4 linked regions of the Homo sapiens genome follow. The protein of the gene in region 2 interacts with the protein of the main gene of each other region in a biochemical or structural test. Each region holds a gene or a part of one and is shown on either strand. Other genes may lie near its edges.

Region 1 (3,500 bases), on a different chromosome or scaffold from region 2:
ATATTTTTGAGACAGAGGCTTTGACTAGACAGGACTGTTAGGATTGCCATTTTAGTTAAACTAAAGGTGTGTGCCCTATGCAATTTAATCTAAGTTCCAATTGAATGGCTTGTTTTTCCAGTATCCAGGATTATTAGTCATCTTGGGCTAGACAGGTACAGCTTGTACTGATTTATATTTCAGTAGGTTTAACAGTAGTGAAAACCAGAGCTCAAAACTGTGCAATGATGAATATTAGAAAGTTTAGCAGTATTGTTGCTTTAGCCTAAAGACTTTCAGGTGAGTATGCTCTTCAGCACCTTGGCCTTTCTACCTCTGGCCACACAGGGCATCACACAGATGTCTTCCGCACATGGAATGTAACCAGCATTATGCTCAAAGTTAACAGGAGAACCTTATTATTTTTTTTTTTTTAAACTTCCCCTTCAAAAATAAGAACAAACAGTGTTAGTCTTGGCAGAGGATGTTTAGATAGACCTTTTGCTTGGGATGCAGAGATTCAGGGTTGCAGAGACAGTGGCGAAATGCAAACATCACTGTATTCAAATGTTAGAAGTAGGTATTATTTATGTTAAGATATTTTAATATGAAATCAGAAGTTTTCCTTTTTTACTTACACTTACACACTTTTTTCCTTTATTACTTATATGCATGTGTACATTCATATAATATTTTTAATACATTTTCCTCCTCAGGGCTATTATGAGCCTAAATATTTTTAAATGGCCAGTTGTTTTACTGAATTAATCCTTTTGTAATAATCTGACTAGTAATTGAGTAGAAATAGTCTCATGTTGCTACCATGAGATCCTAAGGGTGGTTGTGGCATGGAAAGGTCTTATATTCAGCTGTTCTGGAATCACACATAGACTGTAATGGCCACAGAAATATTTTGAATCATGGCAGTATGCACATAGTTTATAATCTGTTTCTATAAACAGTGGAGCCATGCGTTCCTTTTAGTCTAAGCTCACAGCTGTGTATAGATTTATTCACATGATAGTTTTCTTAAAAGCTAAAGTTAGAGAATTGTATTATGTTATTTCTTCTTTATTTTTGTGGAACATTATGTTCATTCTCTATTACTATGTTGCCTGATTCTTGGGAGGGCTGTTATATCTCTATTGTCCATTCTCAAGAAATTAGAAAATATGTGAGAAAGCATTTAAGACATGCTTTAGTAGAGGTTTATGTCCAAATAAGATGTCACACTCCAATGGATTGTCATTGTTGCATGAAATTATTTTTCTCTTATATTGTTTACAATGTATTCTTTCTTGAATTTTCTTCTTTCAGAGAAGAGTTCCAGTCACAAATGCATATATGATGCATTTTGACATTTACTGCTAAGATGAAATGCAGAAATGAAACCACACATCCATTTTAGTATTCTCAGATGTGATTAGATGTACTTGCTCATGTTTTTATGCTACTGACTTATAAGAAAAAAAATATTTTAAAAGGGTAACCGTTAAACAGCTAGGACCTGCAACTTCAGTGCTTCTGGGATAACTGGAACATCAGAAGGACAGATTTTATTACAGCATAATCACACCTCATTTCTTTCATCAGCAGTTGTCACCAGACGCTGTTACTTCCTAAAATGGCGGACAATCTTCCCACAGAGTTTGATGTGGTTATAATAGGGACAGGTTTGCCCGAATCCATCCTTGCAGCTGCATGTTCAAGAAGTGGTCAGAGGGTTCTGCATATTGATTCAAGAAGCTACTATGGAGGAAACTGGGCTAGTTTCAGCTTTTCAGGATTGCTATCCTGGTTGAAGGAGTATCAGCAAAACAATGACATTGGGGAAGAAAGTACTGTTGTATGGCAGGACCTGATCCATGAAACAGAAGAAGCCATCACTCTTCGCAAGAAGGATGAAACTATTCAACACACAGAAGCTTTTTGCTACGCCAGTCAGGATATGGAGGACAACGTTGAAGAGATTGGTGCTCTGCAGAAAAATCCTTCTTTGGGGGTGTCTAATACCTTCACTGAAGTTCTGGATTCTGCATTACCTGAAGAAAGCCAGTTATCGTATTTTAATAGCGACGAAATGCCTGCAAAACACACTCAGAAAAGTGATACAGAGATTTCACTAGAAGTAACTGATGTAGAGGAATCAGTGGAGAAGGAAAAGTATTGTGGAGATAAAACTTGTATGCACACAGTTTCAGATAAAGATGGAGATAAAGATGAAAGCAAATCTACAGTAGAAGATAAGGCCGATGAACCAATTAGAAATAGGATTACTTACTCTCAAATAGTTAAAGAAGGCAGGAGGTTTAATATTGATTTGGTGTCAAAACTGCTGTATTCTCAAGGATTGCTAATTGATCTTTTAATCAAATCAGATGTTAGTCGTTATGTAGAATTTAAAAATGTCACTAGGATTCTTGCATTTCGGGAAGGAAAGGTAGAACAAGTTCCTTGTTCCAGAGCAGATGTCTTTAATAGCAAGGAACTCACCATGGTTGAAAAGAGGATGCTAATGAAATTTCTCACATTTTGTTTAGAGTATGAACAACATCCTGATGAATACCAAGCTTTCAGGCAGTGTTCATTTTCAGAATACTTAAAAACTAAAAAACTAACTCCCAACCTTCAACATTTTGTACTGCACTCAATTGCAATGACATCAGAATCATCTTGCACTACAATAGATGGTCTTAACGCAACTAAAAACTTCCTTCAGTGTCTCGGACGGTTTGGCAACACCCCCTTTTTATTTCCCTTGTATGGCCAAGGAGAAATTCCCCAGGGTTTCTGTAGGATGTGTGCAGTTTTTGGTGGAATCTATTGTCTTCGTCATAAAGTACAATGCTTTGTAGTCGACAAAGAATCTGGACGATGTAAAGCAATTATAGATCACTTTGGTCAAAGAATAAATGCTAAATATTTTATTGTGGAAGACAGTTACCTTTCTGAGGAAACATGCTCAAATGTGCAGTATAAGCAGATCTCTAGGGCAGTACTCATTACAGATCAGTCTATACTAAAGACAGATTTAGATCAGCAGACTTCCATTCTGATAGTTCCTCCAGCAGAGCCAGGAGCTTGTGCTGTACGGGTCACAGAATTATGTTCTTCAACCATGACATGCATGAAGGACACCTATCTGGTACATTTGACATGTTCATCTTCTAAAACAGCAAGAGAAGACTTAGAATCAGTGGTGAAGAAATTATTCACTCCGTATACTGAAACAGAAATAAACGAGGAAGAACTTACAAAGCCAAGACTCTTGTGGGCTCTTTATTTTAATATGAGAGATTCCTCGGGAATCAGCAGAAGCTCGTATAATGGCTTGCCTTCCAATGTTTATGTCTGCTCTGGGCCTGACTGTGGCCTGGGAAATGAGCATGCTGTCAAGCAAGCTGAAACACTTTTCCAGGAGATCTTTCCAACTGAAGAATTCTGCCCTCCACCTCCAAATCCAGAAGACATTATCTTTGATGGTGATGATAAGCAGCCAGAGGCTCCTGGAACCAATAATG
Region 2 (4,116 bases):
CCTCCTGCCCTTCCTTCCTAAAATTGTGTCTCGTTGTCCTTAGGGACCTGGCAAGACATGCCCTGCAGCGTCCAGCCCAGCCCCGTGCACTGGCCCTGGAAGGCTCTGACACTCAAATCCAGCTGTGACCTCCCCCTGCTCACACACCCTCTGTGACTCCCTATTGCCCTCCAAAGAGTCCCAGCCTCTCAGCACATGGTTGAGGCCCTCTGTGATCGGCCACATTTCCTCCAGCTGACCCTCATGTTCCAGTCTTGTGAAATTATTACCAAAACACACAGGACCTTTCTCACTGCAAGCCTTTGCCCAAGCTATTTCCTCTGCCTGAAAGACCCTTCTTCACTACCCACCACTCCAGGAAGCCTGGCTCCTCTCATGTGCTCCTCCCATCCAGGTCCCTCCCTCTACCTCAGGGGTCCCTCGAGGCACCCCTAGATGCCTCTTGAGCCCAGCAACACCCAACAAAGCGTTGGACGGTGAGTGTCAGAATAAATCCTTAAACTTTCTGCATGGCAAACTCCTACACATCCCTCAGGATCCAACTCAAATGGCTCCTGGATGAAGGCTAGTTTGCAGAAAGTGTGAATTACCTGGCTTTAGCTGTAAGACCTTGGGTGTGTGCCCTCCCCTCTCTTAGTGTCCTTTTTCTAGACTTGTGGGTCTCCAGCCCAGCTGGGCACTCACCAAGGTGGTCAGCTAGCTGCCGGCCACGTTCTGATGACACCACCCGCTCATCCTCCATGTCACACTTGTTTCCTACCAGCAGCACCTGGGCATTGTCCCATGAGTAGGTCTTGATCTGGGTGGACCTATAGGAGGCACCAATGGGGGCAGGTCAGGGCTTGGAGGATCCCAGCTCCACCCTGACGGGCTGATGTGGAGCCTGTGTCCTTGTCCGAGGAAGAAAGACCCAGAAGCTTGCCCCTCCATCCTCCCCACCATCCTTTCCCCCAATGTGCCCCGCTTTCACCCCACTCCAGCCCCCGACTGACCCATTATTGTTTCTGTGTTTTGGGGTTTTTTTTGAGATAGAGTCTGGGTCTGTTGCCCAGGCTGGAGTATCTGCCTGCCTTCGCTTCTCAAAGTACTGGAATTACAGGCATGAGCCACCCAGCCCAGAAATTTTCTTTTTTTGAGATAGAGTCTTGCTCTGTCGCCCAGGCTGGAGTGCAGTGGCGCGATCTAGGCTCACTGCAATCTCCGCCTCCCAGGTTGAAGTGATTCTCCTGCCTCAGCCTCCTAAGTAGCTGGGACTATAGGCATGAGCCACCATGCCTGGTAATTTTTTGTGCTTTTAGTAGAGACAGGGTTTCACTATGTTGGCCACGATGGACTCGAACTCCTGAGCTCAAGATCTACCCACCTCGGCCTCCCAAGGTGCTGGGATTATAGGCATGAGCCACTGTGCCCAACCCAGAAATTTTTTTTTAAAGTTATTACTTCTGAGCAGAAAATTGAAATGTTTACAATCTCTAACCTATGCCAACTCTCCTTTTTTTTTTGAGACAGAGTTTTGCTCTTGTTGCCCAGGCTGGAGTGCAATGGCAATCTTGGCTCACTGCAACCTCCACCTCCCGGGTTCGAGCGATTCTCCTGCCTCAGGCTCCCAAGTAGCTGGGATTACAGGTGTGCGCCACCACGTCTGGCTAATTTTTGCATTCTTAGTAGAGATGGGGTTTCTCCATCTTGGTCAGGCTGGTCTCGAACTCCCGACCTCAGGTGATCCACCTGCCTCAGCCTCCCAAAGTGCTGGGATTATAGGTGTGAGCCACCGTGCCCGGCCATGCCAACTCTCCTTATAGTCTCTATATTCTCCACCCTACACTTGCAGATATTTGTTTCTATATGGTTATAGTTTTACTTTTCCATCTGAAATCCTTCTCTGACCCCTACGTTTTATTTATTATTTTTTGAAGAAAGTTTGGCTCAGAGACAATGGCCCCAGAATGAGTGTGGAAGGCCAGAAGCGATGGCTCACGCCTGTAATCCCAGCACTTTGGGAGGCCAAGGTGGGCAGATCACTTGAGCCAAGGAGTTCAAGACCAGCCTGGGCAACATGAGGAAACCCCATCTCAACTAAAAATACAAAAAAATTAGCCAGGTGTGGTGGTATATGCCTGTAGTCCCAGCTACTTGGGAGGCTGAGGCAGGAGGATCACTTGAGCCCAGGAGGTCGAGGCTGCAGTGAGCCCTGATCGTGCCACTGCACTCCAGCCTGGGTGACAGAATAAAACCCTCTCTCAAAGAAAAGAAAAGAAAAAAAAAGAGCAAGTGGGGTACACTCACCAGTCCTGCACTGCATTGAAGGATTCCTCGTTGGTGATGTCATACATGAGGATGAAGCCCATAGCGCCCCGGTAGTATGCGGTGGTGATGGTCCGGTACCGCTCTTGCCCTGCTGTGTCCTAGGGAGGAAGAGATGAAGGTCAGAGAGGACCTGCACATAAGGCCCTCGAAGAGGAAATGAGCTCTGATATCATCCAGTTCAGCCCCCTGGGAGAAGCAGGAGCTTGCCCAGGGGCACAAAGTGTCAGGAAGAGCAGGTTGGGTCACCAGTGCTCAGAATATATGAGTGCTCCATTATTCCACAGAGTCATTCACCAAACGTACTGTGCCAGGTGCTGTGGCTCACACCTGTAATCCCAGCACTATGGGAGGCTGAGGTGGGCAGGTGGCTTGAACCCAGGAGTTCCAGACCAGCCTGAGCAACATAGCAAGACCCCATCTCTACAAAAAGTACAAAAATTAACAGGGTGTGGTGGCTCACACCTGTAGTCCCAACTACTCAGGAGGCTCAGGTGAGAGGGTTGCTTGAGCCCAGGAGGCAGAGGTTGCAGTGAGGTGAGATCGCGCCACTGCAGTTCAGCCTGGGTGACAGAGTGAAACCCTGTCTCAAAAAACAAACAGGGGGTCGGGTGTGGTGGTGGCTCACGCCTGTAATCCCAGCACTTTGGGAGGCCAAGGCAGGTGGATCACCTGAGGTCAGGAGTTCGAGACCAGCCTGGCCAACATGGTGAAACTCTGTCTCTACTAAAAATACAAAAATTAGCTCGGCGTGGTGGCATGCACCTGTAATCCCAGCTACTCAGGAGGCTGAGGCAGGAGAATCGCTTGAACTCAGGAGACAGAGGTTGCAGTGAGCCGAGATCGCGCCATTGCACTCCACCCTGGGTGACAAGAGCGAGACTCCGTCTCAAAACAATAACAACAAAAAAAAAAAAAAAAAGAAAGAAAGAAAGAAAGAAAGAAAGAAAACAGAGGCCAGGCGTGGTGGCTCATGCTTGTAATCCCAGCACCTTGGGAGGCCAAGACAGGTGGATCACTTGTGGTCAGGAGTTCAAGACTAGCCTGGCCAACATGGCGAAACCCTATCTCTACTAAAAATACAAAAAAAAATTAGCTGGGCTTGGTGGTGAGCCCCTGTAATCCCAGCTACTCAGGAGGCTGAGGCAGGAGAATCGCTTGAACCCGGGAGGCAGAGGTTTCAGTGAGCCAAGATTGCACTACTGCACTCCAGCCTGGGTGACAGAGCAAAAACTCTGTCTCAAAAAACAAACAAACAAATAAACAAACATGGACTGGGCACTGATCTTTTCCACACCCTGAACTGGACACTGGGGACACAGTTGTTAACAAGATGGGCACTTCCCTTGCTAAGTGACACTCAGTGTGGGAAATAGAAAATAACGGTATAAATGTATCCTATATTGGAGAGTGACAAGGACCAAGGAGAAAAATCAAGCCAGATGAAGATGGAGAGAATTTAACTGTAGGTTTAAAAATTAAAGGAAGCTGACACTTGCCTGTACTCCCAGCTACTTGGGAAGCTGAGGCGGGAGGATTGCTTGAGCCCACGAGTTCAAATCCAGCCTGGGCAACAGAGTGAGACTCTGTCTCTTAAAACTAACAAGGCCAGGTGGGGTGGCTCATGCCTGTAATCTTAGCACTTTGAGAGGCTGAGGTGGGAGGATCGCTTGAGCCCAGGAGTTCAAGACCAGCCTGGGCAGACATAGCCCGACCCTGTCTCTACAAAAAAGAAAAAAATCAGCAGGCGTGGTGGTAGAAGCCCGTGGTCCTAGCTACTCAGGAGGCTCAGGTGGAAGAATGGTTTGAGCC
Region 3 (3,952 bases), on a different chromosome or scaffold from region 2:
CTTTAAGTTAAATTAAGTTAAAAAAATAGCCTAGGAGAGAAACATATCAATTCTCTCATCATCATTGCTAAGGAGTCTTGACTAGGAAATTGTTGTTCAATTTAAACCCTTTTCTATATTGATTCTTTTATAATTATATCAAGAAAATTCAGTCTCCAGGTTTCAAAGCTGATAACATTACCTATTTTGAAAAGATTGCCTATTTATTTCTGCCTTTATCAGCAAGAGAAGCTCATCCTTAATGCCTATCATTGGGCTAGGCATTAGCAGAAGCTTCTTAAATACAATAGGATATGGTTGAGTGTTTTTCTTATCTGGGATCAGTGTTTCTTGGGAAGTACCTACAGAGATACTCTGAACTACATGTGAGTGAGTATGATGATAGCGAACATCATTAGAGGAATTAGAGTAGATAACTCATGTGTAAGCACCAGAGAGCAGTTATGTGATGTGATGGGGCTACCTAGAGCCAAAAAACACAAATTAAAGATTTACCGTGTTGTGGGGCATCTTGATACACTGCAGAACAGTCCTAGCGAGGACGGGTCAAGAAAGACACTGCATTGATGAGTACAATATACCCAGAAAATCCAGGCTGTTGGAGGATGTGTGTGTGTGTGTGTGTGTGTGTGTGTGTGTGTGTGTGTGTATCAAAAGCATCCAAAAAATCACATTGTTGTGGCTGTGAACACTTAACTAGTAAATAAGAAAGACACGGTGGCAGGGAGGAAAAAGAAAATGTATCCACAGGGTGTTCCATTCTGCTGTTCAGAACATTGTGGTTGCTCAAATAATATTAATGCTCTATGATGAAGATGGTAGCGAGGATGATGATGATTAATGCGACCCATGCAAAATAGGGCTGGGGAGGATGACATAGGCGAGGGACCAGAAGAGGGAGGATGACTCATGGGTGAGGGGTACCTGGGGATAGAGCGAGGTGCTGTGCACGTTGGCGACTGTAGGGGTAGCGGCCGGGGCACGCGTGGCTCGGACCCGGGGAGTGGGCGGGTGGGTGCCCGTGGGCGGAGCGGCGCCGGGACTGAGTGGCTGGCAGCTATGTCTGCGAGAGCAGCGGCATCACCCTGGATGGAAGCCTCTGAGACTCCGCCTAACTGACACCCAAACTCTCCCTCTCCCTCCCGCAGCCCCAAATTGGAGGCAGCAGAGCCTGGGAGCAGCCTCCACGGCGGCAGCGGCCGCCCCAGTCCCAGCCCCAGCCCCAGCCCCAGCCCCGCCCCCGCCCCGCGCCCCGCCGGAGACGCCCGGATCGGCGGAGCCTGGCGCGAGCCCTCGCCCCCTCGCCTCTCCCGCCGCGCCTCCGCCTGCCCGCCCCCGCCGGCCGAGGCTGGGCTGCGGGAGGCGGCCGGGCGGCCCCGAGCTTCGCTAGGGCGACCAAAACAAAGGCAGCATCCGGGGCTGGGTGGATGCAAACAACCATGAAAGACTGGGTTCTCGCTCTCCCCGGCTCTGCTGCTGCTGCTGCTGCCGCCGCCGCCGCTGCTCCTCCTCCTGCCGCCGCCGCTAGGGCTCCGCTGTGAGGGGGAAGCAGGGGCGCAGCTGCTGGGCGTGCATCCGAAAGGTGAGAGCCAGAGAGCGAGCAGAGGGGGCGGGCAGGCCACGAAAATGTCCTCGGCCGTGGGGCCCCGCGGTCCTCGCCCACCCACGGTGCCTCCCCCCATGCAAGAGCTGCCCGACCTGAGCCACCTGACCGAAGAGGAGAGGAACATTATCATGGCAGTGATGGACCGGCAGAAGGAAGAGGAGGAAAAAGAAGAAGCCATGCTCAAGTAAGCCAGCCCCAGCCGCGCCATCCATGCCTCCGTGCCTCCATCCGTCCATTCACCACTCACTCCCCTAGTCCTCGCGGCTGAGTGTGGGGAAGGGGCTGCCAGGGTGCTGGGTGCGGACGGAGGCGCCCGCCTTGGGCCAGGGGCGCGGGGCTTGAGCAGGGAAGAGGTCAGGGGACCGGAGGAGGGAGGGGATATGCCACAGATCCAGGAACCCAAAGGCCGGGGGAGGATGACTTGAGACTGGGGTGCAGAGGAGGGATGGGTGGACGGGGGCCACGCTCGTGGTGGGAAGTGCAGAAGCTGAGAGGTGCTGATCCCACCCAAGTGGAAGGTCCCTGGGCTGGGAGCAGGTTAGGGGGCAGGGGATGAGTAGAAACAAGGGGAGGCAGGATGAAGAGGTGCTGAGGACAGCTCCTCTTCTCTTCTTGGAGTTGTTTAGCTGGTCGGGGTTACCCCAGTGAAGGCTGCCTATATTTATATAATAAAAATGCTTATTTTTAGTGTTCATTTTAGTAATCATTCATCTCACAGATCAAGGTTGGGTCTTTTTTTGGGCAATTGCCATCTTTGGTAACCTGCCTCCCCAGCTTCTCTTTAACCTTTTATTCAGAGTCTTCTACACAGCATACCTGTGTGAAGACAGATTCTCTTCTCCATATGTAATGCCACTGGCAATACAAAGTTTTTAATCATGGGAGAAGCTGACAGGGACTCTGGCCTGAATAACATAGAGGTTCCTCTTTAGTGGTTTCCAAGAGACCTCTGGGGCCTGTTCAGTTCCTGGAGGAAACAGTCCAATAAGGGATTGGGAATTTGCACTCCTCCTCACTTCTTTAGAGCGCATCAACCCTTCAAGGGATTTCTGTCTGATGCCCCATTTTCCTGGTGATGGGGAGAAGATGGGACTACTTGCTGGTGGTGCAGGAGTGTGTGACACTGTGCTGCTGCTTGCCTCAGACAAAACTGCTTACAAGGGACTGGCAGAGAGACGGGGCTTTCCTTGCTTAGCATCACCCATAGAGTAGAGCTGAAGGAGGCTTCAACCCTGCCTTTTCTTGGGAAGTCTTCATGTATTCAGGAAAGTTTTCACTCTGAAGCAGGGGAATGTAGGGGCCCTGACTGTGACTGACTCCTTGGTGTCCCCTGCTTAGGCTGGAAGGTGTATCTGGGGCCAGGGGATTGGCATGAAGAGCCAAAAGGAACCTGTTGCATCTGGAGTTACCTGATAGCAAAAGAGGGGTGGGGAGGGAGCAGGGGTGAAACCCAGACACAGAGCACATTCTGCATGGCCTCTCCCCCACCCCCTAGAAGTGCCTCCTCGAGAGAAGATGCTGCCGAAGAAGATTTCTTCTGCTTCCCCTCAGTGCAGCAGTGCCTCATAGGAGAGGAATGGAGGGAGGCTGCATTCACAGACCGATGGTTCCCCAACCAGGGCAACTGACACTCAGATAGGGGAGGGGGATACTGAGGGAGAGATGTGGCTGTTAGGTCACAGCAAAATAGTAGAAATCCAGTCATTCCTGTTCTTTCATTGTAGATTCAGAAAAGGGCCATTAACTCCGAAGGCCAGAGCTGGCCTGGTTCTATAAAGAGCAGCAGGTTTCTGAATTCCCTGCTCCTTCTCATCCAAAAATCAAATACTTTAAGCCTGCCGGCTTGAGGGAGGCAGAACCCTCGTTAATCTGCTGCCTGTCCCTAGTGGAAGAATGACGTCCCTGGTGCTGCAGGCTTCCCCTCTTCTGAGACTGGAAGTAATGGATGGTGTCTGATAGTGCTGCTGTCTGTCTGTCTGGTTGTCAGTCCGTCTGTACTCACTGGTTACAGCCCCTGCCACCTGTCCTGAACACCTTTTCGGCTTGTCAGGATTTACAGGTTTGCTGCTGTTCCTTTTGCTGTTTGCTGCAGACAGCAGGTGGATGGAGGCCTCCAGTAGCTAGTGGAAAATATAGGCTGCTGCTTGCCAGAGTCCGGATAGGAAGGGGAAGGCACGGTGCAAGTAGTGGCCATCATGCCTCTTCATTGGCTGTCTCAAGCATGGTGGAGAGTGAGGGATTTTAAGTGGGAGTGGGTGAGTTTTAGGACAGAATTCCAAACCTGCTAACTGCCAAAGGACAGCAATTATAAGATTGTATGGGCTTATATGGGCAAATAAAAATTAG
Region 4 (3,500 bases), on a different chromosome or scaffold from region 2:
CCTCCCCAGAAAATGGTTTTTTCTTTTCTCCCACATGGTCAGACTGCAAATTTTCCAAACCTTTATGCTCTGCTTCCCTTTTAAACATAAGTTCCAATGTGAAGGCATCTCTTTGTGAACACACATGACTGAGTGCTTTCAGAATCAGCTGGGTCACCTCTTGAATGCTTTGCTGCTTAGAAATTTTTTCTGCCACATACCCTAAATCATCTTTCTCAAGTTCAAAGTTTCACAGATCTCTAGGGCAGGGAGAAAATGCTACTAGTCTCTTTGCTAAAGCATAGCAAGAGTCACCTTTGCTCCAGTTCCCAATAAGTTCCTCATCTCCATCTGAGGCCACCTCAGCCTGGACATCATTGTTCATATCACTATCAGCATTTTGGCCAAAACCATTCAACAAGTCTCTAGAAAGTTCCAAATTTTCCCACATTTACCTCTCTTCTTCTGAGCCCTCCAAACTGTTCTAACCTCTGCCTGTTACCCAATTCCATAGTCACTTCCACATTTTCAGGTTATCTTTTAGCAGTACCCCACTCCTGGTACCAATTCTCAATGCTAGTGCCTCTTACACTGCCATAAAGATACTACCTGAGACTAGGTAATTTGTAAACAAAAAAGGTTTAACTCACAAGGCCACATGGCTGGGGAGGCCTCAGGAAAGTTACAATCATAGCAGAGGGTGAAGGGGAAGCAAGGCACATCTCACATGGTGGCAGGAGAAAGAGAAAAGGGGGAACTGCTAAATACTTTTAAACCATCAGATATTCTGAGAACTCACTATCACAAGAACAACATGGGAACAGCCGCCCCCATAATCTAGTCACCCCCTAACACGTGGGGATAACAATTTGAGATGAGATTTGGGTGAGGACTCAGAACCAAACCATATCAAGGCTCTATAAGAAATCATATAAACAATATTAAGGAAATTGTATTTCTATTGATATATAGAATGAATGTATTTCAGTTCTCAACAATCTGAACACTTGATAATGAACCTGATGAGGTACTGCCATCCTTGAAGAGTGGACCTCAATACATGTATAGAATTAAAGGGAGAAGTCATAGAATTCTGAAAACAGACTTACGGAAGTTCATGTATTCTGATTAAGTACTGTAGCCTGTTTAAGCAAATTTTTAAGGATAAAACACTTATTTTTTTTTAGTTAATGCCAGAAATGCACACACATTTTAAACCGATTTCCAAAAACGATTTTATCTTTTCTTCCTTGGCCAGGCTGAAACACTTTTCCAGGAAATCTGCCCCAATGAAGATTTCTGTCCCCCTCCACCAAATCCTGAAGACATTATCCTTGATGGAGACAGTTTACAGCCAGAGGCTTCAGAATCCAGTGCCATACCAGAGGCTAACTCGGAGACTTTCAAGGAAAGCACAAACCTTGGAAACCTAGAGGAGTCCTCTGAATAATGGATATACACCAAACTGGATACCCAACTTTGGAAATTCTGACTGGTCTCAGAGTCTACTTGATAGAAGGACTGTTTGAGAAATGTTAGAAAGCAGCAGCAATTATAAGGCAAAATAGGTAATAGAAATCCAAAAGGGGATTTTCCTTATAGAGGACATTCCAAGAACACACAACACTTATAAAGCACATTGACTTGCTCATTTTAAATACCAAACTTGTGTGACTAGCAGATGAAAATTATAAATCAATTGATTCTCAGGAATGTAACTGTGGATATGAAAGTGATCCTATGCATTGTTAATAATTCCATGGTCTTAGGACAATTTTGCTTACCACTTTGGATCTTTGTTTGAAAGCCACATTTTCAGAACCAGCTCATGTATTTTCTTTGGTTATTTGAATTTTATTTTCTTTATGGACAAGAGCATCATAACATAATGATAAAAACATATAGAAAAACTAAAGTATCATGATCTAGATAGAAGCCTGTATTTGGAATACAGGTTTGTTTTGCTTTCTATGTTGAGAAGCATTGAAAATGCTAATATAAAGGTGTTTAGACATTTTTACGAATAAGTCAGTAGTGTTTTTTAGTATCAGTAGTGATATTTGTTTGTAAATTATTTACATATTGGGAAAGGTCAATAATGAAGAAATGAAAGAATGGAAGGAAAGGTGTGGATAGGCTCATTGGTATTTGAATATTCTGTCTGTCAAGTAACTAGAGTATTAGGCTAATTGTCTACAGACCTAATTTAATCCTGGCTGTCCTACTGATGATATTTGGTAAATTGTTTAACTTCTGAGCCTACGTTTCTCCATATATAAAGTGGAAATAGTATTACTATGCCTACTATATGAGAATGGTTATGAAGACAATGCAATGCCATGTTTAGAATCGGTTTGCCAGAAGAAAATTGTTTTAGAATTTTCCCATTGACTTGATGAATCTCAAAAGTCTCACGCAGGAAATAATTGCTTGCTGTCAGTCAACTTCCAAACAAAATAGATCACAGTGTTTTTATTGCATTAAGCTTTTTAAATGAAAATTTCTTTTTTAAAGTAGTATTTTATAGTCTTACAGACCAGTAAAAATAGTAACAAGTAGAATTGTGGTTTTGAAATATTACTAAGGAAAACACTCTATAAATTGTTTTATTCCTTTTCTGGTAGGTAAACCTGCAACCACCAAGGACTCCAAATTGTGTATGACAGTTGGTAAGCCCTAATATACACTACATAAAAACGTTAGGGCTGCCTGTAATCCCAGCACTTTGGGAAGCTGAGGTGGGTAGATCACTTGAGGTCAGGAGTTCGAGACCAGCCTGGCCAACATGGCGAAACCCTGTCTCTACTAAAAATACAAAATTTTAGCTGGGTGTTATGGTGGGCACCTGTAATCCCAGCTACTTTGAAGATGAGGTAGCAGACTCACTTGAACCAGGGAGGCGGAGGTTGCAGTGAGCCAAGATTTTGCCACTGCACTCCAGCCTGGGTGACAGAGCAAGACTCTGTCTCACAAAAAAAAAAAAAGGGGGCTGTACATAGGCAGCAAACTAAGCTGCAGTGATGTTGCCTATATTTAAATTTTCTCAAATGGCCAAGCTCTGATGGTCTACTTTATTTGAGCAATAGTTGAGACTTATAATTGCCTATAAATAAACAAACAAATGAACTATTTGTTTTTTTTTCTCACAACATCTGGCCTATATTGTCTGTCAGGAAGCCATGGCTCCAATGTAAAGTACATAGTTCTTACATACTTCAACTGCAGCTGGTCCCTGACCTCACCAGGTTTCAGAGATGTTCTTAAAGGAAGCCAGCTGTGGCAGGTCACAGATTCATGGGAAATGGAAAGAACCAAGGAATATAGCTCTTGCCTCACCTTTCTACCCACTGCAGATATAGTTCAAGCCAGAGTAATGGAAGAACTTAACTTACTAGCCTCTCAGGCTGCTCCTATCCCTACCTCCCAGTGTACAGCCCCTCCCCATCTCTTTAGTCCCCTTTCCCTCACTTCCCCTTTTATAATGTCACACAAATCAGGGACAGTAGGATCACATTATAACC

Evidence for each region.
Region 1: the proteins of RAB3A (region 2) and CHML form a complex in vitro, tested with the Homo sapiens proteins (one study listed by BioGRID).
Region 3: the proteins of RAB3A (region 2) and RIMS1 form a complex in vitro, tested with the Homo sapiens proteins (one study listed by BioGRID).
Region 4: the proteins of RAB3A (region 2) and CHM form a complex in vitro, tested with the Homo sapiens proteins (one study listed by BioGRID).

Annotation. Positions count from the first base shown.
Region 1 is NC_000001.11:241,633,870-241,637,369, reverse strand, and holds part of CHML (rab proteins geranylgeranyltransferase component A 2), read left to right. Parts: intron 1-1,175; exon of another isoform or gene 1,176-1,296; coding exon of another isoform or gene 1,297-1,337; 5' UTR 1,338-1,572; coding exon of another isoform or gene 1,573-1,603; coding exon 1,604-3,500. UniProt on the Homo sapiens protein: Substrate-binding subunit (component A) of the Rab geranylgeranyltransferase (GGTase) complex. Binds unprenylated Rab proteins and presents the substrate peptide to the catalytic component B.
Region 2 is NC_000019.10:18,198,041-18,202,156, forward strand, and holds part of RAB3A (ras-related protein Rab-3A), read right to left. Parts: intron 2,406-4,116; coding exon 2,287-2,405; intron 810-2,286; coding exon 685-809; intron 1-684. UniProt on the Homo sapiens protein: The small GTPases Rab are key regulators of intracellular membrane trafficking, from the formation of transport vesicles to their fusion with membranes.
Region 3 is NC_000006.12:71,885,398-71,889,349, forward strand, and holds the start of RIMS1 (regulating synaptic membrane exocytosis protein 1), read left to right. Parts: upstream 1-1,152; 5' UTR 1,153-1,626; coding exon 1,627-1,790; intron 1,791-3,952. UniProt on the Homo sapiens protein: Rab effector involved in exocytosis. May act as scaffold protein that regulates neurotransmitter release at the active zone.
Region 4 is NC_000023.11:85,862,559-85,866,058, reverse strand, and holds part of CHM (rab proteins geranylgeranyltransferase component A 1), read left to right. Parts: intron 1-1,237; coding exon 1,238-1,429; 3' UTR 1,430-3,500. UniProt on the Homo sapiens protein: Substrate-binding subunit of the Rab geranylgeranyltransferase (GGTase) complex.